7 linked regions of the Homo sapiens genome follow. The protein of the gene in region 1 interacts with the protein of each later gene in a pairwise test. Each region holds a gene or a part of one and is shown in the gene's direction. Other genes may lie near its edges.

The links.
Region 2: the proteins of MFF (region 1) and TMEM128 interact in binary tests that used the Homo sapiens proteins (3 or more experiments, as listed by UniProt).
Region 3: the proteins of MFF (region 1) and STX8 interact in binary tests that used the Homo sapiens proteins (3 or more experiments, as listed by UniProt).
Region 4: the proteins of MFF (region 1) and MMGT1 interact in binary tests that used the Homo sapiens proteins (3 or more experiments, as listed by UniProt).
Region 5: the proteins of MFF (region 1) and CYB5B interact in binary tests that used the Homo sapiens proteins (3 or more experiments, as listed by UniProt).
Region 6: the proteins of MFF (region 1) and OPN1SW interact in binary tests that used the Homo sapiens proteins (3 or more experiments, as listed by UniProt).
Region 7: the proteins of MFF (region 1) and NTS interact in binary tests that used the Homo sapiens proteins (3 or more experiments, as listed by UniProt).

Annotation. Positions count from the first base shown.
Region 1 is NC_000002.12:227,349,251-227,352,750, forward strand, and holds part of MFF (mitochondrial fission factor), read left to right. Parts: intron 1-3,263; coding exon 3,264-3,323; intron 3,324-3,500. UniProt on the Homo sapiens protein: Plays a role in mitochondrial and peroxisomal fission. Promotes the recruitment and association of the fission mediator dynamin-related protein 1 (DNM1L) to the mitochondrial surface.
Region 2 is NC_000004.12:4,238,224-4,241,723, reverse strand, and holds part of TMEM128 (transmembrane protein 128), read left to right. Parts: intron 1-1,244; coding exon 1,245-1,403; intron 1,404-3,500.
Region 3 is NC_000017.11:9,250,821-9,254,320, reverse strand, and holds part of STX8 (syntaxin-8), read left to right. Parts: intron 1-3,500. UniProt on the Homo sapiens protein: Vesicle trafficking protein that functions in the early secretory pathway, possibly by mediating retrograde transport from cis-Golgi membranes to the ER.
Region 4 is NC_000023.11:135,963,989-135,967,488, reverse strand, and holds part of MMGT1 (ER membrane protein complex subunit 5), read left to right. Parts: coding exon 1-99; intron 100-2,305; coding exon 2,306-2,465; 3' UTR 2,466-3,500. UniProt on the Homo sapiens protein: Part of the endoplasmic reticulum membrane protein complex (EMC) that enables the energy-independent insertion into endoplasmic reticulum membranes of newly synthesized membrane proteins.
Region 5 is NC_000016.10:69,431,119-69,434,618, forward strand, and holds part of CYB5B (cytochrome b5 type B), read left to right. Parts: intron 1-3,500. UniProt on the Homo sapiens protein: Cytochrome b5 is a membrane-bound hemoprotein functioning as an electron carrier for several membrane-bound oxygenases.
Region 6 is NC_000007.14:128,772,995-128,776,981, reverse strand, and holds the start of OPN1SW (short-wave-sensitive opsin 1), read left to right. Parts: upstream 1-1,187; 5' UTR 1,188-1,200; coding exon 1,201-1,543; intron 1,544-1,827; coding exon 1,828-1,996; intron 1,997-2,318; coding exon 2,319-2,484; intron 2,485-3,093; coding exon 3,094-3,333; intron 3,334-3,581; exon of another isoform or gene 3,582-3,987. UniProt on the Homo sapiens protein: Visual pigments are the light-absorbing molecules that mediate vision. They consist of an apoprotein, opsin, covalently linked to cis-retinal.
Region 7 is NC_000012.12:85,872,855-85,877,094, forward strand, and holds the start of NTS (neurotensin/neuromedin N preproprotein), read left to right. Parts: upstream 1-1,440; 5' UTR 1,441-1,549; coding exon 1,550-1,622; intron 1,623-3,785; coding exon 3,786-3,847; intron 3,848-4,240. UniProt on the Homo sapiens protein: Neurotensin may play an endocrine or paracrine role in the regulation of fat metabolism. It causes contraction of smooth muscle.

The DNA of each region.
Region 1 (3,500 bases):
AACTTATAAAAATATGGATTTTTTCCTCCATAATGGAAAAAAAATTGTGCCTCAGAGTCAAATGTATAAAATCAAAAATCGTATTAGTATAAACTTTGTATTTTTTTAATAATGAAAAATATTTTTGGACTTTCAGTGAAATTTTATTTCACTTTTTTACATTGTGATGAATTGATAACTCTAAAATCCCTTTTCTGGGAAGGAATTCTCTTTTCTCATTCATTTCAGTAAGTTTTTAAAAGTTCATGAAGGAGTTATATTAATAATGCTTTTCTCCTAGATCTGTAGCATTAGTTGTTACCTTGGAGCTTGGAGGGTTAGATTCTCATCAGTCTTATTGACGCTTTCAGTATTGAAAGGATTTTTTAAAGTTGTATTCACTTAGGATCTCAGTGTTGAGCAAGATTTTATCAGAATTTTAAGTGCCAAATCAGTTTTTATTTCCTTTGTGAGAAGTATCTGGCATGACTTTTCAGATATAAGAAATAGGAATGTGAAATTTGGATAATGTTCTACTTGCATGATTATAAAATAATACTGCTTATAAAATTTTAAGTGCTTCTATGTTCCTTGCTCTGTAGATCATTTTTTCTTTTCTATTTTATTACTCTTGGCTATTATGCTAATGCAATACCTTATCTTTGGTCATATGCCATCACATTAGGTGTAGTTAATTTAAACTAGAACTATTTGGCAGAAAAAGAAAAAAGCTTTCTGCTTGCTTTATCACTATGAAGTAATGCAGATTCACAATTCCTTGACATAAGAACTGTGTTCAGTTTACATTTTAAAGGACGCTGTCAAAAGGTTTGTGTACCATATATTTTTTTCTTACAAGAATGTAGATGATCTAAACCAAACTCAACGTGAAAACCAAGTTAAATCCTAGGTACATGTTAGAAAAGTTTATTTACACAGGTGAGTGTTACGCATTTGGAGAACTGATACACTGAAAATTTACCAAAGCACCAGGTGTGTCATTTGCTCAGGTGCAGCAGAAATTAAAATACTATTATGATTTGGTCCTTAACTGGTTAGAAAATGCCGGTCTCTCCCTGTATCTGTTAGAGCTATGTATCTCATTTTACAATGTAAAATATTCGCATCTTCAAAAAGAAACTTAGTTCCTGTGTAAGAACCTTATTTAAATATTGATAGATGAGTCATGCTTAGCTCTCATTTTTACGAGGGGCTTGATTATTTTTATGCAGTTTTTCCTTAACAGATTGTACCAGCTTTGAGTGCATAGAATAAGAAACCAATGTATGAATAATTTATATTTTTGGCAAGTATCCCTATAAATATACAGCTTGGAAGACCTAGAAATCCAGAGTTGCAGTGGATACAGCGTTTGTTATTTATAATTTTTCTCTTTAAAAAAGTGTATAATTCCTGATCCCCAATTAAACTTTATTTTCTGTAGCAGATTACATTTTTATAGCAAAGAAACACATATTCTGTTACGTCAGAGTGTATTTACTCAAAAAATGTCAGTACGCAAGTTAATGGCGGAGCTTGGTGGTAGCCTTGGATTTCTTTCCCTTTTGCCACTCTACAAAACATACTGTTGAGAAGATTTTATGTATTAAATCATACTTATCGTAGAAAATGGTACTTGAATGAAGTTTCTAACTTTGCCACATACCTGTCTAATTTACTTTTACAATATATGTGTCAATTGCCAGTGTGAGAAGACAAAATGAAATACGTTGTGAAAGGTAACTGTATTATTTTCTGGCTCTGCGTTATAAAAGGGAAATCTCTGTGGTGGAATAGGTTGAATATGACAGACCCATTTGAACATACTGTGTGCATTTTAAAAAGCTTTAGGAAGCACACAGTGATGGCTTCATCTAGTTAACCATTTTCATGTTAGTGCAATTTAAGATTGTAGTTAAATAACAGGTTTCCTAATGCCACAGAGTAAATATGTTAGTAGGATGAGATGAGTTAAAGACCTGTCTTAAGCATATGTGATTTCTCCATGTTTTTTAGCCAGTAAAATAAAAGTCAAACATGTTCCCCCAAAAAGTCTCTGAATCCCTTATCATCTAGGCTCCAGAAATTTCTTTAAGCACTGGTAGTACCTTTAAGACATGTAGAAGTTAAACATTAGAATTTTCTTACATGAATTGAATTATCAGAAAATAATTTGTATTGTAGTCAAAATTCCACAGCTGTGCCAACTTACAGAAAAAATTAGTGCATTTGGTATTAAACATTTACCATTATATAATTATTGTCTTGATACTTAAATTCAGGCAAAACCAGATCAGTTACTTAGAGAATGAGATATCCAAAATAGGATTTAATAATTCTTCAAATCTTTATATGGATCCAACACTCCAGTCTCCTTTCTCTGCTTAGTAAATATTGCTGATTGTTTTAGGGGGAATTGACCAGTGAACACTTAGAAGCTTTTGTTTTCTGATTTTAAAAGATAAAACGTATTGGAAAGGTTACTGCTTATCAAAGTAGAAAGCTAACTGTCCTCTAGCGCCAAAGTATATACTGAGAATGAGTGGAAATCCCCACCAAGTTTCCCATTGCACCTTAGTCTTCATTTCCAGCAGCCCTGTATGTCACTCCTGGCTGTCTCAAGATCAGACTCAAATTGTGGATTGCCCTTCCTGTAATGTGCTCTAGCACGTCTCCTGATCTCAGCTTCAGAGTGGAGGCTTGCATTTTCACTCTGGAGAGCTGAGAGTTTGAATGAGACACAGCTGCAACGAGACATCAGGCACTACTCAAAATTAATGAGGTGGGAGGGAAGGAAGTGTGGGAAATGGAGTTTCTTGAAATTTATGAATACGGTTTTTGAGATAGAGCTGTTGATATCAGATGAGCAACTGTGGTCATACCGGTGCAGCTAACCAGGTCCTGATATGCTTTTAAAGGTGCTAGTGATTTTTTTTTTCCAACTGGAAGAAAGGAATTACACTTTTTAAGCAGAGTTGTCCTCTGTCTTAAATTTCATAAAGTAAAGCACCAAGAAAATTATTTTATATGTTGGTGCTGTTTTGTCGTGTAAATATAGATTCCCTTTGTTTCTTTGATCAATAGTAATGTTGAGTTTATGAAAATGATAAAATGGAGGACACATGAGACAAGGATTTTTTAAAGTAGTTGAGAGATATTATATTGTATTGAAATATACAATATAATCCTATTTGACATTTATTTGTCTTGTTTTTGCTTTTATTTTATTACTTCTCTGTTTCCTGATTCTGTCTTGTGCCTTCTCCCGCAAAAACCTGCCTTAGACCTGTGTTGCGTGGTGGGTCTGCTGCCGCCACTTCTAATCCTCATCATGACAACGTCAGGTAAATTTTGAGACTTCGTAATTACCAGGGTAAATGCTTGGCGGAATTTGTGTGTTGCAGGGCATGTTGCATGTCGTAGCCATGCCTGTGTTTGTAGCTGAACTTGTTTCTACAGCTTTCCTCGATGAGTACATCTTGCTTCTCTCTAAGAACAGTGAATAATCAGTCATGACATTT
Region 2 (3,500 bases), on another chromosome or scaffold:
AAGATTCAAACCCATACAGACAGATTTCAGAGGCTGTGCTCTTAACCCCTTCCCTCTACAGCCTCTCATGACTCCGAATCTCAGAATTGCATCATCGTAAAAAGCCTTCATGGAATCCGGAACCTTGCCATTATTGGAAGTTCACTTTGTGCCTTTGTAACTTATCTGTTGTAGCCATCTGTTCTCCCTCTCTCTTCCACATGGATTGTCAGGCTTTTCCCATAGAGAAGCAGATGATGATGGGATATTGGATTGAGTTGGGAGAATGGGAAAGGCATTTCAGTCCCCAAGTCCAGCTGGGGTGGAGGGAAGGGGTTGTCCAGGTTGCCTCACTCTTGCTGAATCAGGTCACAGGTGGAATTGGAAGGGAGTAAAAAGGCATTGGCATTGAGGGTGAGGTGGTGAGTAGAAGATATTTTGAAAATGGGAGGATTTCATTTAGAAATCTTTTATGAGAGAAAATTTGAATTATTGATCTTCCTAATTGTCTTTCAGTATTCCAAGAAAGTCCACTTAACTTGGAGGAATGAAGTTTCCCACTGATAAACTTCTTTAATCCTGTCACACTCAAAACTTCAGAAACAACCAGAAAGCCACTATCTTCCTTGTATTTTTGTTTTTATTTATTTTATTTTTTGAGACAGAGTTTCACTCTTGTTGCCCAGGCACTCCAGGCTGGAGTGCAATGGCGCCATCTCAGCTCATTGCAATCTCTGCCTCCTGGGTTCAGGCGATTCTCCTGCCTCATCCTCCCAAGAAGATTGGATTACAGGCTTGCGCCACCACGCCTGGCTAATTTTGTATTTTTAGTAGAGACAGGATTTCTCCGTGTTGGTCAGGCTGGTCTCGAACTCCTGACCTCAGGTGATCCACCTGCCTCGGCCTTCCAAAGTGTTGGGATTATAGGCATGAGCCACTGCGCCCGGCCTCTTCCTTGTATTTTTAAAGAAAATGCATTGTCATGACCAGAATTTTCCCTTGGTTGGTTGGCTGATGAGAGTGTATATATAAATGCATGTATTTCAAGTCTTACTTTTCATTCTTTCCTGAGTTGTGTATCTCTTTTTCTCACCCCCATCTCCCATAGATTGAGACTTTCTGAAAGCATGGATTGTTTAAGTATGGCTCCCTCTGCAACACTTGATATTCTTAGAAGCAGATTTTTAAGCTATTAGTAAAAACTTTTAAGATATGTGACGATTCATTAAGTGCTGTCAGACCTCTTACTGTTTTTATCTCCACAGCTGGTTTCTCTGTGGCAGTGCCTTGTTGCTTGTCAGTTTATCAATTGCATTTTACTGCATAGTCTACCTGGAATGGTATTGTGGAATTGGAGAATATGATGTCAAGTATCCAGCCTTGATACCCATTACCACTGCCTCCTTTATTGCAGCAGGAATTTGGTAAGTTAACTTTGAAATGACTAACAGGAATGAACAACAAATTTTTTTTTTGATCAGATAGTGATATGCTTGGTCCAAACTTCGAAAGAAAAAAAGTTAAAACAGAAAAATAGTCTCCTGGTCATTCATGCTCTCTGGTTCCCTTTTGATTAGTATCTCTTTCTCCTTCTATTTATGGATCTAGTTATTTAAAGCACAGATGGTGACATTCTGTACATATTCTGCATTTTGCTTTTTAAATCTATTTTATTATGACATACAGTACATATAGAAAAGTGAAAAAAACTGAGATGAATGAATTAGTGAATGAATTCTCATGAAGTGAGCATTGGTGTAAACTGAGCCAGCACACTGGGAACCCCCTTCATTCTCCCTCCCAGTTACTACACCTTCCCTCCTGCCACAGGTAAATACTGCCCTGACCTTCATGGTAACTACTTGCTTTGCTTCCATTAGATATTCTATTTTTGTTTCAGCTACGCTTTTGAACTTTATAGAAATGGATTTGTACAGGGTGTATTCCTTCACATTGAGCTGGCTGTGTGCAGCATTGTGTGCAGTTCTTTCATATTGTCGCCGGGAACAGTGACTCATCTTCATTGCTCTTTAGCATTCCATTGTTTAATTGAATCCCAGTTTTCTTTTCCCTTGTTGATTGTGTTTAGATTTTTTTCAGTTTGGGGTTACTATGAAGGATGCTATAAAGAGCATTCTTGTACATGGCTCTTGTAGCACAGTGAACACATTTCTGTTGGGTGTAGAGATGTATGTATATATGTATATATATGTACCCCAAGGGGTAAAATTGTTGGATGTACGTACCTTTGACTTCAGTAAATCATGCCAAACTGCTTTCCAAAGTGGTTGTTTGTCCTTTTCTCCTTTTGTTTTTCAGTGGATCCTTATAGTTTGGGATTCTTCCATAATGGTACATATAGATGTGTCTCATTTTTTTAAACAGTTGCATAGTTTTCACAGCATGGACATAACATGATTTATTTAACCTGTCTTCTGTTGTTGGACTTCGTTATATTTATACCCAAACAATGCCACAATGAATAACCTTCTTCATAAGTTAATTAAATACTCAATGAAAAATACAGGGTTTTTTGGGTTTATAAAAGTAATACTTGCTCACTGAGGAAAAAAAATCTGTAAATTACATGAAAACACAAAGGAAATATATCCTATGATTCAACCAGAAAGAAAACTACTTTTCCTATGTTGTGTGCAGCTCTCTAGTTTTTTCTTTCTTTATATCAATTGGATTTTTTTTTCTTTTTGGAGATAGGGTCTCACTGTGTCACCCAGGCCGGAGTGCAGTGGCATGATCACAGCTCACTGCAGCCTCGACTTCCCAGGCTTAAGTGATCCTCCTGCCTCACTCAGCCTCCCGAGTAGTTGGGACCACAGGCATGTGTCACCACATCTGGCTATTTTTTGTATTTTTTGTAGAGATGGGGTTTCGCTGTGCTGCTCAGGCAGGTCTCAAACTCCTGGCCTCAAGCCATCTGCTTGTGTTGGCCTCCCAAAGTGCTGGATTACAGGCGTGCGCCACCACCCCCGGCCTAATTGAATTTTTATTTTGGAAGAACCATATACCTTTATACATATTCTTTCTATGACTTATTTTCTGTAGTTGAAGTTCAAGGTTGTTTGACAGTGTGATGTGGTTATTGTTAACCTGTATGTGGGGGCATGCAGATACGTTGTTTTACTTTTTCCCATGAGGGTAAGATCATGTCCAGAAATGTTAATTTTTTAGACAGTGTGATTTGTGATTATAGTTATTTAATACTCATACTTATCAAACTATTATATATTAAAACCAATAACCATCTGAACTTATTTGAATATAGTTTTCCCTATTCTGTTCTTAGAAATTTCAGTCATTAAAAATCTTTATACTTAGTGTTTTAATTTTACTTTGATGACAGGAATAGTGTTTTTCTCAATGAAAGATATAATAGCAGCTTATAAGTGATAACTGTTTTCATTCTGTTTTTAAGAGACAATATTTTGGTCTTTTTTACCATGATAGTTTAGTGTGTGATGTCATAAAAATGGGCTGTAGCCATTTAAATTATTGTTGAAGTC
Region 3 (3,500 bases), on another chromosome or scaffold:
CACTGAGTTTGAGGGATTAACTAGACCACGAGTGGGGAGCTCCCGGATGGAAAGGATAGCGCGTGTCGAAGCTGGGAGGCAGGGCCCCTACCTTCTGCATCAGCCTGTTGGGGGCACCGGAGACAGCCAGGATGGCTCAAACACAGCGCGCAGAGTGCGGCTGCAGGGTTGCTGGGTCAGACTGTGCAAGACCCCCTTGGCCACTGTAAAGTTTGGATCTCAGTTTCAGCCACTGGAGGATTTAAGCAAGGAGGTGACCTGATCTCCTTTACATTCTGAAAAGCTTGCTGTAGTTCCATCGTGGAGCAGGGACCGGGGAAAGCAGTCCCTCACTGCAGGGAGCCAAATCAGGGATGGCAGTGACTGCGCATGCCTTGAGGCCTCTTCCCTTGGACCTCACGCTCCGGGTGTATGAACCAAAACCAGATGTGTGTTTTCTTCTTCCCAATCAGTTGTTGTTCTTGATTTCTTTGTTCTTGTCACTTGCTCCGCTCTTCTCATAATCACCCTGATTTGACAATTCACGGTCATTCATACTGGCCTCTGCTCCAGGCCATCAGAGCCTCAGTGTGGAGCCTGCCTTGATGCATGGAGCTTCTGGGCCCAAGTGTCCTCCCAACTGTGATCCCACTGGAGCTTCAGGAGCAGTACCTCTTCCTAAAACACCTCTCATCCTCTCCCTCATCTCCTCAGCTGCCAGCCCCTCCCTGTCATCTTAGGGTGAGCCCAGGCCCTGGAGTGCCAGGGATTGCCCCTTCGCCCCATCCCAGCCTGTGCCTGCCTCCTCATTCTCGTTATCTTCTCCTCATGTTGCGCAACATAAACCTTCACCCAGCCAGGACCAAGTCTTCAGCTGATCACCACACAGGCACCAGAATAACCAAGAACTAGTGAAGCTCCTGCCCAGGGGAGCTTTTGGTCAACCTGAAGATGTTTCTGGAGCAGAAATCAGTGAAAAGATTTGTTCTTCTGCTTCTGGCAAGAAGATGGACTAAGATATTCTCACATACACACACATACGCATACACACACACACCCGTATCCCTACCTTCTCACTGCAGATGGACTAAGATATTCACACACACACACACACACACACACACACACACACACCCCTACCCCTGCCTTCTTGCTGCAAGCATCTTGAAATGTGAGGTAAAATAGTGTAACTCCACCCACCCACAAATGTTAATGCAGGGCTGAATTTACAAGGAAGAAAGGAAATCCCTAGATGAAAGAAATGAAGAGCGCATTGAAGGCCAGCGCCTAAGTGGGCGAACTGATGCTGCAGGTGGGTCATCATCATGATGATGGAGAGCAGGAGCTAGCAAGCCTCTGGAAGAGGCCAGGTCGTAAACGGTTTAGGCTGTGCAGACCACAGACGGTGTCACATCTCCTCCTTTTACCTTTTTGACAACCCTCTACAAATATAAAAACCATTGTTAGCTCATGGGTTGCACAAAAACAGAGCACAGCTAGATTTGGCCCATGAACCAAAGTTGGCAGAGCCTTGAGGTAGACTAGGATGAGGTTTTCATCTACAGGAAGACGGGGGAGAAACCTTGGGGCCCCAAGAGAAGCGTTTCTCAAAAGATTGGATCATCAGAGAAAGAGCCCATATCAGAAAAATGCAACCACAGTCACAGGTAGATGACAAAGAAGCTTGCCCTAGTTTTTTTTTTTATTTTCGTTTTCTTTTTTTTTTTTTTTTGAGACAGAGTTTCACTGTTGTTGCACAGGCTGTATTGCAGTGGTGTGATCTCAGCTCACTGCAACCTCCGCCTCCCGTGTTCAAACGATTCTCTTGCCTTAGCCTCCCAAGTAGCTGGGATTACAGGCACCCACCACCACACCTGGCTAATATTTTTTTTTTTTTTGAGACAGAGTCTTGCTCTGTTGCCCAGTTTGGAGTGCAGTGGCGCAATCTCGGCTCACTGCAAGCTCCGCCTCCCGGGTTCACGCCATTCTCCTGCCTCAGCCTCCCAAGTAGGTGGGACTACAGGCGCCTGCCACCACGCCAGGCTAATTTTTTGTACTTTTAGTAGAGATGGGGTTTCACCATGTTAGCCAGGATGGTCTCGATCTCCTGACCTCATGGTCCGCCCGCCTCGGCCTCCCAAAGTGCTGGGATTACAGGCGTGAGCCACTGCGCCCGGCCAATTTTTTAAATATATTTTTAGTAGAGACGGGGTTTCACCATGTTAGCCAGGCTGGTCTCGAACTCCTGACCTCAGATGATCTGCCCGCCTCGGCCTCCCAAAGTGCTGGGATTACAGGCATGAGGCACCGTGCCCGGCCTATTTTTTTAAATATATTTTTAATAGAGATGGGGTTTCACCATGTTGGTCAGGCTGGTCTCGAACTCCTGACCTCAGATGATCCGCCCGCCTTGGCCTCCCAAAGTGCTGGGATTACAGGTGTGAGCCACTGCACCCAGCCACTTGCCATACATTTTTAAGTCTCTTCAATATTCAAAACCATGGTGCAGTGCCCACATGGGTTGAGCTTAAGATTGGTATGGCCTGATCCACATTGAACCCTGAGGATCTGTGGAGGGGATTCGGGAAGCCCGTGAACTTGGACCGGAAAGCAAATTGGACTCTTATGTTCACAAATGTCTAATTGAAATTTAGCATTTTCTTTGCTCACGAACATATGCCACAGACTACCGTGGCGTTCAGCAGTCCTGATGGCTGTGCAACCATGTGACCCTGCACACGTGGCTCTCCCTGTTACTTTCTGAAGCATTTTCATGGACCTCTCCTCCTCTGCTACCCACCTCTCTCGTGGGGCCTTGGCAGCTCAAGGACTCTTCAGTGAGCAAACCTTTCTTGAGTGCTTACTTTGTAGTAGGGCGCCCCTTCTCTGTTATGCTATACCTTGTCGCCGCTGGTACCTGGCACGTGGTAAACACTCGTTAAATACTGGGCAAGCGAACATGGGAGACAGTGAGCTCATTGCACTAAGTGAGGGCTGCATTCTGTGGGGCCCACTTCATCAGCATCAGGTGAAGGAACAGGCAATGGTCAGTGCAGACACACGACCCAGAGGAGGCAGGGCGGGGCTGGAAGGCAGAGTGGCACCCAGCATGGGCTGGCTAGGAGGGCCTGTGCTCTCCAGCCAAAAACGTCAGGAAATGAAACTAGCAAATACTAGCAGAAAAAGTATATATCAAAACAAGCACCTCTATCGGTGAATATTTTTACAAATGGGTGACTTAAGGATCTTGGACTCAAGAACACAAAGTGAAGCCATGTGGAGAATGGAGAAATGGGTTCTAGAATGCTCTCCTAAGCCCTTTGCTTTATCAATGCGTCATCAATGCATAATCTGATTGGGTAGTGAGGGTGGCTGTCGTCAGCAGCTTGCGCCCTCCCTTGTGGTCCAAGGTGTACACAGATGCTAGAGTTAGGGGCCTCACCCCCTCCTGGCTTGAGTGCTGCCTGGGGGGGCCTGGCCACACCCAGGCCCCTGCCTTCTGCACTCAGCATCCTGCAAAG
Region 4 (3,500 bases), on another chromosome or scaffold:
TCTTCAGACACTTCTGGCCTTTGCAGTTACCTGTTACGGTATAGTTCATATTGCAGGAGAGTTTAAAGACATGGATGCCACTTCAGAACTGAAAAATAAGTAAGTCTTTCTCTTTTCATAGGCATTGCATTTCATAGAGGTTTGCTGTATTCACATAATTTTAAAAAGTATGTTTTCTGATACATAAAAGTTGGTTTTGTTTCTGCATTTTGATTACACAGTTTGTATGAATAATGAGGTAAAAACATTGAGGCGGTATTTGATACTGTAAGAAAATGGAAGATGAATGCCAGATTATTCACAGTAGAATCAAAAAAATACGTTGCTTAAAATTATTGGTTGGTTGTATGGATGAAAATAGATATATAGAAAAATAATGCCTCAGAATTTTTAACCTTTCTCCTTCCATTCCTTCCTTGCTCCCTTTCTTCCCCCCTCCCTTCCCCCTTTCACTCCTTCCATCCCTCTCTTCCTACCATCCTCTTTCTATCCTCTTGTCCCAGCTTAGTCTTTGGAAGAGTAAGTGGTTTTCGGTTTCCCCTCTCACTTGAACCTAGTATGTGAGATAAGCTCTGCTCCCAGGCCCTTTTCTACTACTGGATTAAAAGTATATTTGTTATTCTGCTTTCTTTTTTTTCTCCTGGACTACTTCTAAGCTATTTTCATGAGCTATGTTTGCTTTTATTTTTCATATTTTTACTTTCCTAAAATCATCCTTTAGCTTTGTTCAGTTCCATCTCTGGACTTTACCCACCTTCTTGATCCTGGACATGATGCCCCTTTACAATATTTTCTTAGAAGGAGTCACAGTGAACATTTATGTGTTAGAGGAAAGTCATATCCCCCTTTTAGTTCATTATGTACATTTTATTTATTTTTATTTCTTTCTTTCTTTATGGAGACAGAGTCTCTATCAACCAGGCTGGAGTGCAGTGGCATGATTTTGGCTCACTGCAACCTCTGCCTCCTAAGTTCAAGTGATTCTCCTGCCTCAGCCTCCTGAGTAGCTGGGATTAACAGGCACCTGCCGCCATGCCCGGCTAATTTTTGTATTTTTAGTAGAGACGGGGTTTCACCATGTTGGCCAGGATGGTCTCGAACTCCTGACCTGAAGTGATCCACCCGCCTTGGGTTCCCAAAGTTCTGGGATTACAGATGTGAGCCAACGTGCCCCACCCAATATGTACATTTTAAGGAGTTACATATCAGGCCTCTTTTTTGTATGGGAGTATGCTTGGATGTTTAGGTGGGCTGAGATTTGAGTTTTTGTCAAAGGAAGAGTTCTCCTATCCTTTCCAGGAAAATAATATTGAAAAACAAAAACCATAAAGGCCACACACCAAGGTGTTTGTGAACTCTTTTAGACTACATATCTCTCACTGGAAAAGTAGAAAGGATACTTTACTGTCATCACTGCTTGCTCTTACAAAGAGTCTACCAAGAATCACAGGCAAGGGGCCAGGAAAGAAAGAAGTAAAACAATGTCATTAAGTAGGTGGTAGAAAAATATGTGTTTGGACAATAGCAGGTACAGAGGGCCAAAAGGAATTTTTTGTTGTGCTTGAAAGATTCTTGGAAAACAGATCTGTGAAACGATCATATGGCTTGAATAATGAGGGCCAAATGAGAATAATCAAAGCTGTAATCTATGTGCTGCTTTTTTAAAAAGACTATTCGACATGCGTTACTGTTAGATTTACAGGGGAGATTAATAGTTGAGCTAGTATTTGTGTTGTTATTCATAGGCATTCTGGAAGGAATGGCTGGATAAAAAAAAATATTAGAAGCCGGGCATCATGGCTCATACCTGTAATCTCAGCTCTTTGGGAGGCTGAGGTAGGAGAATTGCTTGATCCTAGGAGTCTGAGACCACCTGGGCAACATTGGGAGACCCTGTCTCTACAAAAAATAATAATAAAAGAAAGCCATGTGTGGTGGTGCGCATCTGTAGTGCCAGCACTTGGGGGGCTGAGATGAGAGGGTCGCTTGAGTCCAGGAGTTTGAGGCTGCAGTGAGCTATGATTGTGCTACTGCACTCCAGCCTGGGCAACAGAATGAGACCCTATCTCTATTTTTTTTAAAAAGAAGAAATTTGAGAGCTATATGCTGCTTTTCCAGGTTTCTTATTTTCTTTATATAGGAAAAGAGATACAGTATAATTATTATTTACAGTCTGATTTCATGTATTAATACTTGTTAAAAAATATAACCCATAGTAAATTGATAATTCGTTAGAAGCCTACTTATTTTCAAGTAGGGTTTTATAAAGGTTTATCTAAAATTGATGCTTTTTTCTTCTTTCAAGGACATTTGATACGTTAAGGAATCACCCATCCTTTTATGTATTTAATCATCGTGGTCGAGTACTTTTCCGGCCTTCGGATACAGCAAATTCTTCAAACCAAGATGCATTGTCCTCTAACACATCATTGAAGTTACGAAAACTCGAATCACTGCGTCGTTAAGATTTTTACAAATTATAATAATAGGACAGGACACAGAGCTGGAATATTGGAGTTTGGGGTATAAAACACTCCTCCCTGCCCCCATTAGTATTTATATTGATCTTTCAGACCTACTTTAGTAAAAAAAACCATGGCCCTTGTTTATATACTGTTAATCCAATCATTAATGCAGTGTAAGTTATATGTGAAATGAGTCTTTGGTATTTCATATAGGAATTATTTTTTTTTTCATTTAAAACAAATCCACATCTTTTGTAAAAGCCACTGTTTTGAACACATTTCCTTGAAAAATGTTGGTGGTTTTTGTGATTATTTATTTTTTTAGATTTCTTTTCTTTTGCACTACAATTTTTGGAATCCTTTTGGAAATACTGTGTGACTGCTGTGTTTTGCAGCATGAATTATAGTAAAATGGTCTTCAATTCTTAACAAATGGACTTCCCTGATGAGACCAAAATGGTGATTTAACAGTTTTTCTTGTGTCCCCTAAAAAGTGGCTCTGCTTCAGAAGTACTTGCCAGTTTTTAATTTATTTGTGACTTTTCACCCTACCCTGCTCCCATATACCTTCTACCATCAGCTGTCTTGTTTCATCATTTCTCTGAGATTCTGTGTGCAGTGAGCAATTTTTGTGTCAGAAATTCTTTGTCAGAACAAATATATGTAACAGGCTCAACTTACTGTAAAGCTACTTGTGTTCTCTTCATTTGTCTGTAAAAATTTCCCTAATTGATTATATAGTGTAAGAATAGTTGAAGACTAGTTGAAGACCTTTTGTGATTTCATTATCATGCCTATGCAGAAGAAAAATCATTGAGGAAAATTGTCATTAGCCAGTTTAACTGATTCAAACTCTGTTTATTTCATACTAAACTAGTGAATAAGTGAAATAAAGGAAACTCGTCATTAATCTAAAGACAGAGTTCAAAGGAATTGGGCCAAATATATTCTCAGTATTTGGAACTAATGTTTTTAAGGTTTTTAGGAAAATCAGGTCATTTAAGAAATTGTTTTGTAGTTTCTGGTTTATAGCAG
Region 5 (3,500 bases), on another chromosome or scaffold:
CTCTGGAGTAGCTGGCACTACAGGTCCCTCCCACCACACCTGGCTAGTTTTTATGAGATGGGGTTTCACCATGTTAGGTAGGCTGGTCTCGAACTCCTGACCTCAAGTGATCTGCCCACCTTGGCCTCCCAAAGTGCTGGGATTACAGGTGTGAGCCACGGCACCGGCCTATATGTGTTTTTAGAAACTGTCACCATAAATGAGAATATTACTTTAGGAACCATCTCATAAATGGGATAACATTTTATTAACCCAACAAATATTTGTTAAGTTCTATATAGTAGTAGGCCCTGGTGGTGTATAAAAATAAACATAAACATGGAACCCCAGCCTGGGCGACAGAGTGAGATTCTGTCTTAAAAACAAAACAAAGCTGGGTGCAGTGGCTCACGCCTGTAATCCCAGCACTTTGGGAAGCCAAGGTGGACAGATCACTTGAGCTCAGGAGTTTGAGACCAGCCTAGGCAACATGGCAAAACCCCATCTCTACAAAAAATACGAAAATTAGACGAGCATGGTGGCATGAGCCTGTAGTCCCAGCTCCTCAGGAGGCAGGGGTGGGAGAAGGGCTTGAGGCCAGGACATCGAGGCTGCAGTGAGCCGAGATAGCACTACTGCACTCCAGCCTGGGTGACAGCGAGACCCTGTCTCCAAACAAACAAAACGAAAATATCCCATGATACTGCCTTCTTGAAGCTACCATTCTAGAGGAGTCAAAACAAAAACAGACAGATGAAATAATTTTAAATTATGGCACTTTTATGAAGAAAACAAATGAGTTGAGAAAGAAAAATCAGGAAAGATTTAATTTAATAAGAGTGATCTGGGAAAGCCTCTGTGAGAAGATAACATTTAATTGAGCTGATGGTCATGAACCTGATTTGGAAAGAATACAGAAAAGAGCATTCCAGCAGCATTTGAAGTCAAGCAAGAGTTTGGCACATTAGTGGGACTGAAAGAAGCTGTGTCTATAGTGAATGAAGGACAAGAATGGCCAGAGAGCTAGGCGGGACCCAGGACATGCAAGGTCTGGTAGGTAGTTTGGATTTGATCCAAAAGGTAATAGAAAACCACTGACATGTTTGAAGATGAGGGATGACATTGAAGCAATTTACAGACAGTCCCTGACTTACTAGGGCTTGACTTAAAATTTTTTGACTTTACCATGGTGTGAAAGTGATATGTGAGTACTCATACAAGCATTCTGTTTTTCACTTTCAGTATGGTATTCAATAAATTACATGAAATAGTCAGCACTTTATTGTAAGATAGGCTTCATGTTAGATGATTTTGCCCAACTGTAGGCTAACGTAAATGTTCTGAACACATTTAAGTTAGGGTAGGCTAAACTCTTTCAATCCCAATAATTTGTTTGAATACTACATCTTCCGTGCATATACTTATATGTGCAAACATGTATATACTTATATATACAAATATGTACAAATATATACAGAAATAGAGTCATAGTATTCTATTAGTTGATTTGCCCTCGTAGTCGTCATAGTATTTATTGAGTGCTTATTATTCTAAGTGCTTTACATGTAATTTCTCTTTTAAGCCTCCCAACAACCTGTTTTAGAGGTGAGAAAACAGGAGCAGAGGAGTAACTTTCACAGAGTCATAAAGTTAGGTGGCACAGGTGAGATTTGAAATCAAGCACTGTGACCCTATAGCCTGTACTCCTTTTTTTTTTGAGACAGAGTCTCGTTCTATCACCCAGGCTGGAGTGCAATGGCGCGATCTCAGCCCACTGCAACTTCCACCTCCCGGGTTCAAGCGATTCTCCCTGCCTCAGCCTCCTGAGTAGCTGGGATTACAGGCACCTGCCACCACATCTGGCTAATTTTTGTAGTTTTAATAGAGACGGGGTTTTGCCGTGTTGGCCGGGCTGGTCTCAAACTACTGACCTCAGGTGATCCGCCTGCCTCAGCCTCCCAAAGTGCTGGGATTACAGGCCTGAGCCACCATGCCCGGCCTGTGGCCTGTACTCTTAACCGTACCCTAGGATCTGCCTCAATGTTTTTCATGGCTGCAGAGTATGGAATTAGGTCTGTTTTATAGCTTTGTTCACATTTTAAATATAATTTGGAAGGATTGGGAATGTGGTATAGGGAAGTTAGAACAGATACCCCTTTCCTGGAACCTAGGTAATTTTTTTCATTTTTTAAGTAGGTCAAACAGGTATATAGTAAAAAGCCACCTTCCCCTCTGCCCAGTTTCACTGCCTCCTAAAGTTAACTCCCATTGTTTGTGTATCCCTCTAGTTTCTTTTTGCCTGTACAAGCCAAAGTGAATGTAGTTTCTCTTTTTTTACACAAAAGATAACATACTATGCACACTCATCTGTGTCTTGCCTTTTTCACTTAACTGTGTATCTCAGGGATCTTTCCATAGCAATAACTGGCATCCCTCCTCCTCCTTCACCACAGCTGCATAGGATTTATTATATGGATCATTATTTAAGCAGTATCCTATTGATAAACATTTGGGTTTTTCAATATTTTGCTGTCACATTTTTTTCTCTAAATCAACTTAATTGAAATCAAATGTAGGGACAATAAAATGTACAGATTTTGAATGTAGAGTTCAGTGAGTTTTGACAAATGTCTCATCTGTATAATCACCATCACAATCAATATACGGTCATGGGTCACTTCACAATGAGGGTGCATTCTGAGAACTGCATCATTAGTTGATTTTACCCCTTCACAAACATCATAGAGTATATTTACACAAACCTAGGTAGTATAGCCTGCTACACACCTTAGCTGTACGGTATAGTCTCTTGTTCCTAGGCTATAAACCTGTACAAACCTGTAGGCAGTTGTGACACAGTAACAAGTATTTGTGCATCTAAACATAGAAAAGGTGCAATAAAAATATGGTATTATAATCTTATGGGACCACCATCATATATATGGTCCATTGTTGACCATATTATGTGGCACATAACTGTAGAACATTTCTACCAGTGTTGTCCCCATACACACTCATTTTATTTCTAACACTATAGTACGTACTCTTCTGTCTAGCTTCTTTTGCTCAGTATATCTGTGAGATTCATCTATTTTTTCTGTGTTATCAGTGATTTGTAACTTATGATTTCATTGTGTGAACATACCAAAATTTGTTTATCCATTCACTTGTTGATTGACATTTGGGTTGTCTCCAGTTTGGGGCTGTTATGAATAAAACTGCTAGGAACTGTCATGTACAAATCTTTGTGTGGACATATGATTTTATTCCTCCTGGGCAAATACCTAGTAGTAAAATTGCTAGGAGTGAGATTACTAGGTTATATGTCTGTTTAACTTTTTAAGCAACTGCCAGAGCATTTTCCAAAGTGTTTATATAATTTTATACTCCCACCACAATGTAGGTTTTCCAGTTTCTTCACATCTTCATTGATACATTGTATTTGTCAGTTATTTTACTTTTAACCATTCTAATGGGTGTGTGGTTGGCCAGGTGCTGTGGCTCACGCCTGTAATCCCAGC
Region 6 (3,987 bases), on another chromosome or scaffold:
TATAGTCTCGCTCTGTCCCACAGGCTGGAGTGCAGTGGCGTGATCTCGGCTCACTGCAGGCTCCGCCTCCCGGGTTCACGCCATTCTCCTGCCTCAGCCTCCCAAGTAGCTGGGACTACAGGCGCCCACCACCACACCCAGCTAATTTTTTGTATTTTTAGTAGAGACGGGGTTTCACCGTTAGCCAGGATGGTCTCGATCTCCTGACCTTGTGATCCACCCATCTCAGCCTCCCAAAGTGCTGGGATTACAGGCTTGAGCCACCACGCCCGGCCAACTCATCTATATATTTATGATCTGCTGAGGTGGAAAAGATTCATTCATAAAGCCTAAAGTGTAGTACTGAGTACAAGTGCAGGTGGAACTTAAAGCAGAGTTGGTGTCACTGGGGTGGGCTGCACAGAAGAGGTGTTTGTGAGGTAGGCTGTGAGGGCTAGATAAGACTTCAATGAACAGACAGGAGGAAGACTGTGGCGACTTGTTGAGCTAAGGGTAGGGGTAGGCATGAACATGGCGTAAGGACAGTGAACAGACCCACCTCCCTGGCTGGAGGTCTGAGTAGGAAAGGCACACTCTTTGAGTAGATTCAACACAAAGAAATGGAGGCAGCCTGGCTCAGGGATGCCCTAGACCTCTAGGCATTGTCAAGTTGCCTAAGTCCTGTTCCATCAAGGCTGTTTACTGATGTGCTTCCAGGGCACTCCCCACTCCCAGCCCTTTCCTGCAGCCCAGGGCTGGTTCCTAGCCTCTCAGCAGACTTAAGATGGGCACCTTCCACAAAGGGGCAGATGAGTTGAGGAAAACTTAACTGATACAGTTGTGCCAGAAGCCAAAATAAGAGGCGTGCCCTTTCTATAGCCCCATTAAAAGAACAAAAAAGTGGAAGCATCTTCAGTGAATATGGGTCAGCACCTCCCAGACCTCAGGGAGTCCACTTCTGTTCATCCCAGCACCCAGCATTGCATATCCAGATTATTTGAGCCCAATCTCTTATCCTCTGAAGAACACAATCGGCTTTGGGGCCACAAAAGGTTTAGGTAGTGGTTTAGGGATTTCTAATCCCAAACTTTGTCCTTGGGAGGTTTAGGATTAGTATTGATCATTCACAGAGCCCAAGTGTTTTTAGAGGAGGGGTTTTGTGGGGTGGGAGGATCACCTATAAGAGGACTCAGAGGGGGGTGTGGGGCATCCATGAGAAAAATGTCGGAGGAAGAGTTTTATCTGTTCAAAAATATCTCTTCAGTGGGGCCGTGGGATGGGCCTCAGTACCACATTGCCCCTGTCTGGGCCTTCTACCTCCAGGCAGCTTTCATGGGCACTGTCTTCCTTATAGGGTTCCCACTCAATGCCATGGTGCTGGTGGCCACACTGCGCTACAAAAAGTTGCGGCAGCCCCTCAACTACATTCTGGTCAACGTGTCCTTCGGAGGCTTCCTCCTCTGCATCTTCTCTGTCTTCCCTGTCTTCGTCGCCAGCTGTAACGGATACTTCGTCTTCGGTCGCCATGTTTGTGCTTTGGAGGGCTTCCTGGGCACTGTAGCAGGTACTGCAGGGGAAAAAGGGGTTAGGGGAAGGCAAAGGTTGCTACTCCACTGGAGGGGGTTCCTAAAGAGGAGTCTGGGGGAAATGAGTCTGGTGCTTTTTAAAATACTGGGGTACAAAGCAACCCAGACTAGAAGTTTGGCTAAAATAGGATGTTTGAGTCTTCACTCCAAATGTCAGTCCAGCCCTGTCTCTCTGTGCTTGCTCCACCCGATCTGTTTGCCACTCTGCCAGCCAGGCTGGGTGGGGCTCTGTCTAGCCCATTATCCTCACATTTCACCACAGGTCTGGTTACAGGATGGTCACTGGCCTTCCTGGCCTTTGAGCGCTACATTGTCATCTGTAAGCCCTTCGGCAACTTCCGCTTCAGCTCCAAGCATGCACTGACGGTGGTCCTGGCTACCTGGACCATTGGTATTGGCGTCTCCATCCCACCCTTCTTTGGCTGGAGCCGGTGAGAGTGCAGGGCAGTGGTGCTGAGTTAACTAGGAGCTCAGGTTGATGTGGGTGGAAAGAGAGCTTGGGTATAACTATTTAGTCTTTGACCTCTACTTTTAAAGAGTTGCAATATGAGGCGAAAGGGCAGTGGGAGACAAGTGCTAACGTTTACTCTGCAGTTGGAATTGCTGTAGCTTCTCCCAGTCAGGACAGAAAACCCCCCTGCTTGAAGCCTTAGGGCATTCCGTGGGTTCTAAGTGGAGAACACAATCCAGGCATCTCAGCTCCCACTGCACTCTTGTGGAGAGTCCAGTGAGCAAGTGTTTGGTCCTTTGCAGGTTCATCCCTGAGGGCCTGCAGTGTTCCTGTGGCCCTGACTGGTACACCGTGGGCACCAAATACCGCAGCGAGTCCTATACGTGGTTCCTCTTCATCTTCTGCTTCATTGTGCCTCTCTCCCTCATCTGCTTCTCCTACACTCAGCTGCTGAGGGCCCTGAAAGCTGTGAGTGGCATTTGATAGTCAGGGAAGAAGGGGTTCGGGGCTCCACATGAGAAGGAAGAGTGCTCTGAAACATAAGATGCCTGGAAATGTCCATAGCCAGAGAGGGTATCTAAAAGCAGCAAAGGAAGTAGGAGGAGGGAGAATGATGGAGATCCAAAGGAACTAGGCCAGGAGATGGGACAGAAAAGAGGCAATCAGAGTGGATGCCCCCTCCCCCATCCCACAGAAAAGCATCCAGAGACCGGGCGCAGTGGCTCACGCCTATAATCCCAGCACTTTGGGAGGCCGAAGCAGACGGATCACCTGAGGTCAATAGTTCCAGACCAGCCTGGCCTACATGGCAAAATGCTAAAATGCGAAAATTAGCTGGGCATGGTGGTGTGTGCTTGTAACCCCAGCTACTCAGGAGGCTGAGACAAAAGAATCACTTGAACCCGGGAGGTGGAGGTTCAGTGAGCCGAGACTGCACCACTGCAACTCCAGCCTGGGCAACAGAGCGAGACTCGGTCTCAAAAAGAAAATTAAAAATTAAAAATTAAAAAAAAAAAAAAAAAGCATCCAGAGGGCCAGGAAAAAGAGAGATGTGATGCTTTCCGTGCTCCACCCCAGGTTGCAGCTCAGCAGCAGGAGTCAGCTACGACCCAGAAGGCTGAACGGGAGGTGAGCCGCATGGTGGTTGTGATGGTAGGATCCTTCTGTGTCTGCTACGTGCCCTACGCGGCCTTCGCCATGTACATGGTCAACAACCGTAACCATGGGCTGGACTTACGGCTTGTCACCATTCCTTCATTCTTCTCCAAGAGTGCTTGCATCTACAATCCCATCATCTACTGCTTCATGAATAAGCAGGTAAAGCTCTTTATTCACATTCCTATGGTCCAGAAGACCCTGGTTCTTTTCTCACCATTGACTTTTAACTCAGAGCACCCTGGACTCTACCCAGGTTTCTAGTAGACGAGGGAAGCCACAAAACCCCCGAGTAGGTTGGGAAGCCTTTGGTAAGCACAGGGAGGAAGGCACGGTTATCAAGACGAGAAAATAGAACCCCGGAGGAAAGAACTTGAGTCAGGAAAATGAAGTTGCTCCAAAGAACAGGATGAATGAAAGCATTTTATTGAAAAACTCGTGCAGCAAACCACCATGGCACACGTTTACCTATGTAACAAACCTGCACATCCTGCACATGTATCCTGGAACTTAAATAAAATTAAAAAAATAAAAATAAAAACTCAGATTCCTCTCAATTTTCAGTCCTTGCATTTAATAATTTCTTAATCATTTCCCTTCCAACTTTTAGCCTGCACGAGCATGTGTGAAGCACAGAAATCATACCACATGCAAAAATCTCTAAAATATCTTATCATCTGAAGGTACTGGGGGATTTCCTATCCCATCTGAAATCCGAGCTAATAAACACCAAACCCTAAGTGGCAAAAACCCTACTTTCAGATGGTATTGTTTCCTCAATCCCAGAGGTAGACTCAAAACTAATTTGAAACCTCC
Region 7 (4,240 bases), on another chromosome or scaffold:
TAAATTTCTGGTATTATATGAAAGACTCCTTGCTATTCTAAGTAATTATTAAATGTTTGGATTTAATCGCTTTGCTTAAGTTTTGGGTAAAGGTGAAAAAGTTAAACTCATAGATTGTATAATATAAATCAATTATCTATAGGAACCAATCCTATTTTTTCTCAACTGTTACTACATGATTGATTTATTTAAAAATTAAACAAGACTCAGACAACTTTACATTCAAATATTCACATCTCTAACAGCACTGACTTGTCAAATTACCCCATGTATCTTGAAATGCTTACTACAAGAAGAAAGTTTTACTCTAAAAGGCATTTTGAACAATTTTCTTTTGAGAACTCAGACAAAGAATGGGTATCAGTGTAACTCATGAAATACATGAAGACTATCATAGAAAAGTGACTTTGGTGAATGGTGGTTATTTAGGATTGTCTCCTTTCCAAAAGTACAATCTCTTTTTTTATGGTGAAAAGAGTATTATAACAGGGAAAGAAAGCCGATGCAATAGTAAAAACTGTTGAGAAGGGAATTATACAAAGAGTGAGACATGGCATCAAGAATGAATTCAAAAAGAGCAGAAAAATATAGGCATAAAAAGAGATAATGTACAGAAAAAAAGTCAGTGATACAACAACACAAATTTTTACCTGCTAGAATGTAAGTAATTTAGAGCTGGATTTTATAAACATGAAATTGTTTTTCTAATACATTCAACCAAAAGTCAGCACACATAGTTCAGTCATCTCTCATTACTTACAATAAAATATTTTCTATTTGTTAGGAAATAATATCTTATTCCCTGGATCTATTATTTCTTTTTATTGATTTTCTTTCTATTCTCTAAACTTAATTGCTTAATTTTTATAACTGATTCTCTGTCTCTATTCCATCTTATTCCAGCATGGATTATTTAAAACCTGTATTAGTTTTGGAACCACTAAACATTTGCTCAGAAGTTTGAATTACCAGAGAAGCACCCTAACTCTTCAAGAACTTCCAAGCCTAAGGAATCACTGATTTCATGCATTCATCCTGGAGATTTTCCTTAAAAATTAGAAATAACAGATCTCATGTTTCACAAAATCAAAATGACAACTTTTGGAGTGGGGGAATGAGAAGTGGGAAAAGGATGATACTGGGGGTTCTTTGTCAGTATGCTGTATGTATGCTGTATGTCAGTGCAGTTGAATGACTCCTTCTGTGCGTCAGAAATCCAAAGCAGCAGCAGCAGCAATTAGGGAAGATCGTCACTTTCACTCAAGGTTCAGAAATGGGGGAGGAGAGCAGGGGGGACAAAGGAAAAGGGGAGGAGAAAGCAGGGCAAAGAGGGGAGGGATGGAGGTGAAGATAGGGCACATCCTGCAAAGATAATGTCTGTACAATCAATGACATCATCCTCCTGCTTATATATATAGGGGAATGGCCAGAGCACCTCTCATAGTTCACTCACTTTCAAAGCCAGCTGAAGGAAAGAGGAAGTGCTAGAGAGAGCCCCCTTCAGTGTGCTTCTGACTTTTACGGACTTGGCTTGTTAGAAGGCTGAAAGATGATGGCAGGAATGAAAATCCAGCTTGTATGCATGCTACTCCTGGCTTTCAGCTCCTGGAGTCTGTGCTCAGGTAAGCAAAACAGAATTTCACAACTCCCTGAAGTGATTTCTTTTTTCTCTTTTGCAGTGTGTTGCTACTTATGTTAATGTATCTGGGGAGAAGAGTTGCTCCCTTTTATTCAGGATTTACCTTTTAGTGACAGAAACTGAGTATCTCTTTCTCTGCCTTTATGATTACTGAGAGATGTATTTTCTCTTTTAAAATCTGCAAAGCAATAAAAGGGATTTCAATGAAACACTGCACGACCTCCTTTGGAATTCAACAACTAGAGGGAAAAAAACCCTACAAAACTTTCAATTAGGCTGATCATTATCTAATGAGAAATACAGAGGCAGTGGCTGTCAACCTGCAAACCCATCATTAAATCCCATTCCATTCAAAATGTTTTACTCTCATCCTCATTCATTCTCTTAGGAAGCGGTGGCCCTCACGCCCTTGTAATAGTCCCCGTATTATTTTCTTGTTTGTGTTAAGATAACAAATAAAGTGAAAATTGATACTTAGTGAAAAATGAAGCATTATTTGTAGAAAATTATTTCTAGAAAAATACAAAAATATTCCAGATCCTTTTTGAGAACAGAATTTGCATAGTCTAATAAGTGTGCTATTAATATAACTGTTTGGCATTTTTTCCATGCCATTTAAGTTAATACAAAATACAATTGGAAAATTGGTATTCTTATATTGATGGAAATTATTTGACTTTAGAGTGTTTTGCATGTGGTTTGAAAGAAGTTATATAGTCCTAAGTATCTACGAATAACTCACTTTGAAAATAAGACTTAAATTGAAAGGTATAACATGAAATATTACAACCATTGCAAAAGGCTCTACTTAATATTTAAGAAATATTACAATGAACACTTCAAAGGGAAAAGAACACATTAGGAAGCAAATGCAGCAAAAATAATTTAACCTGTTCTGTGCTTTTATGTATCATAAATATGACATGGAAATGTTTAACTCAAACTCATGCTATCATTTGATTTAAATTATGAAATTAAAATCTAAGAAGATATAAATGTGATTTATACAAAATTTTAAATTTATTTTAATCATCAGAACATAACTTTCAGCTTCTACTTTTTAAATCTTATGAGAAAAAACAAACTTTTCTATAATTATGATTTTATCTGAAAGTTATATGAGATTAAAGATTCACATACTTCTGGAAGAAAAACTGGGTTATTGATTAAGCACTGTGTTTATTAACTTGAAACTACTTGTTGTAATAATGCAATAGTTATAAGGATTTTGGTATACATTGTTCATAAATTCCTAAAACAGATTATGTCTCTAACAAATAGTGAGAAAAGATCTCTTGTATAATTTAGGTTCTAGGTAAAATTAAGCCAATGGGTTCTCCAATTGTGGCATTTCTTTTTACTGAGTGTGTAGTACAAGGAAGATAGAGTCATTTTTAACTTTATTTTTATTATTGTATAGTATTTTCCAAATTTTCCTTCTCTGTAAAATATTCATTAACAGAAACTTGGATAGAGTTTTTTAAAAATCCAGAGATCCATTTTCAATGCTGTTGTACATGTGTTGTTGAACAGCTCCACTTTTGCTTTAAACAATTTCCTTAAATGCCTATGAAAAAATTGAGGATACATAATTTTGAATTCTCTTAAAGTACAATACAATTCTTTCAACGTGTGTTTTGTAAAAAACATCTCAAGTTAAGTAAACCTCAGTATCTTTATTATTCTAAAATTATCAGTAAGCAATTCCCTTTGGTTTTGTCTTGAAAAAGTCTCTTGTATAGTCTTCATTATGTTGTGTTTTTAAATGTTAATATGCATATTTTCTATATATGTAAACTGTGGCTGGTAAGAAATAAGCTACTCTAGCATATTTGGTAAAATATGTGTTATACAATGTAATCACATTTTTAAAGCCTGAAATTCAAAGATTAAACAACTCCCAGTGATCAATAGCTGTCTGAAAAATAATCATATGCTTATTTTCTTAGAAGTGCTTCTACTATTTTAGCTTCCTATTATGCTAAAGTATAACTATAATTTGTTTTTTAGGATTACTATTTTTAAGAAAATACATAAGAAAGACACTAACCTCTAAGATTTTTTTTTAGATTAACCTAAAATCTGTAGATTATGATATAATTATATGATATGTAATTATAGTAAACCTGATTTTGATTTTACTCAGATTCAGAAGAGGAAATGAAAGCATTAGAAGCAGATTTCTTGACCAATATGCATACATCAAAGGTAACTTTTTCTTTTCTTTAACCCTGAGTTGAAGAACATATGAACTTTCATTATAAACATGGTATCCTTTTCCCATAGTAATAACTTCTCATCAAGATTGAAAAGTTCCTTGAGAGGCATTTCCTTTTTGAAAAAAAAAATTTCTTTTAGTTAAAAGAAGTTAAAGGTGTTGATATGACAGGCAAAGAAATTATAATTCTATCAATCAGCATGTTGCAATTTTAATTAATTGCCACACATATTTACTTGCCTGTAAATGTTTTTAAAGGAACTTGCTTCCATGCCTTTTACATTGGGTATGATGAAAGGTATATTGGTCTCAAGTTAAATGAAAACAAAGTGAGCTCTTTGCCTTTTTTATTATATTGGGGGAAATAAAAAGGTGTTCCTAAA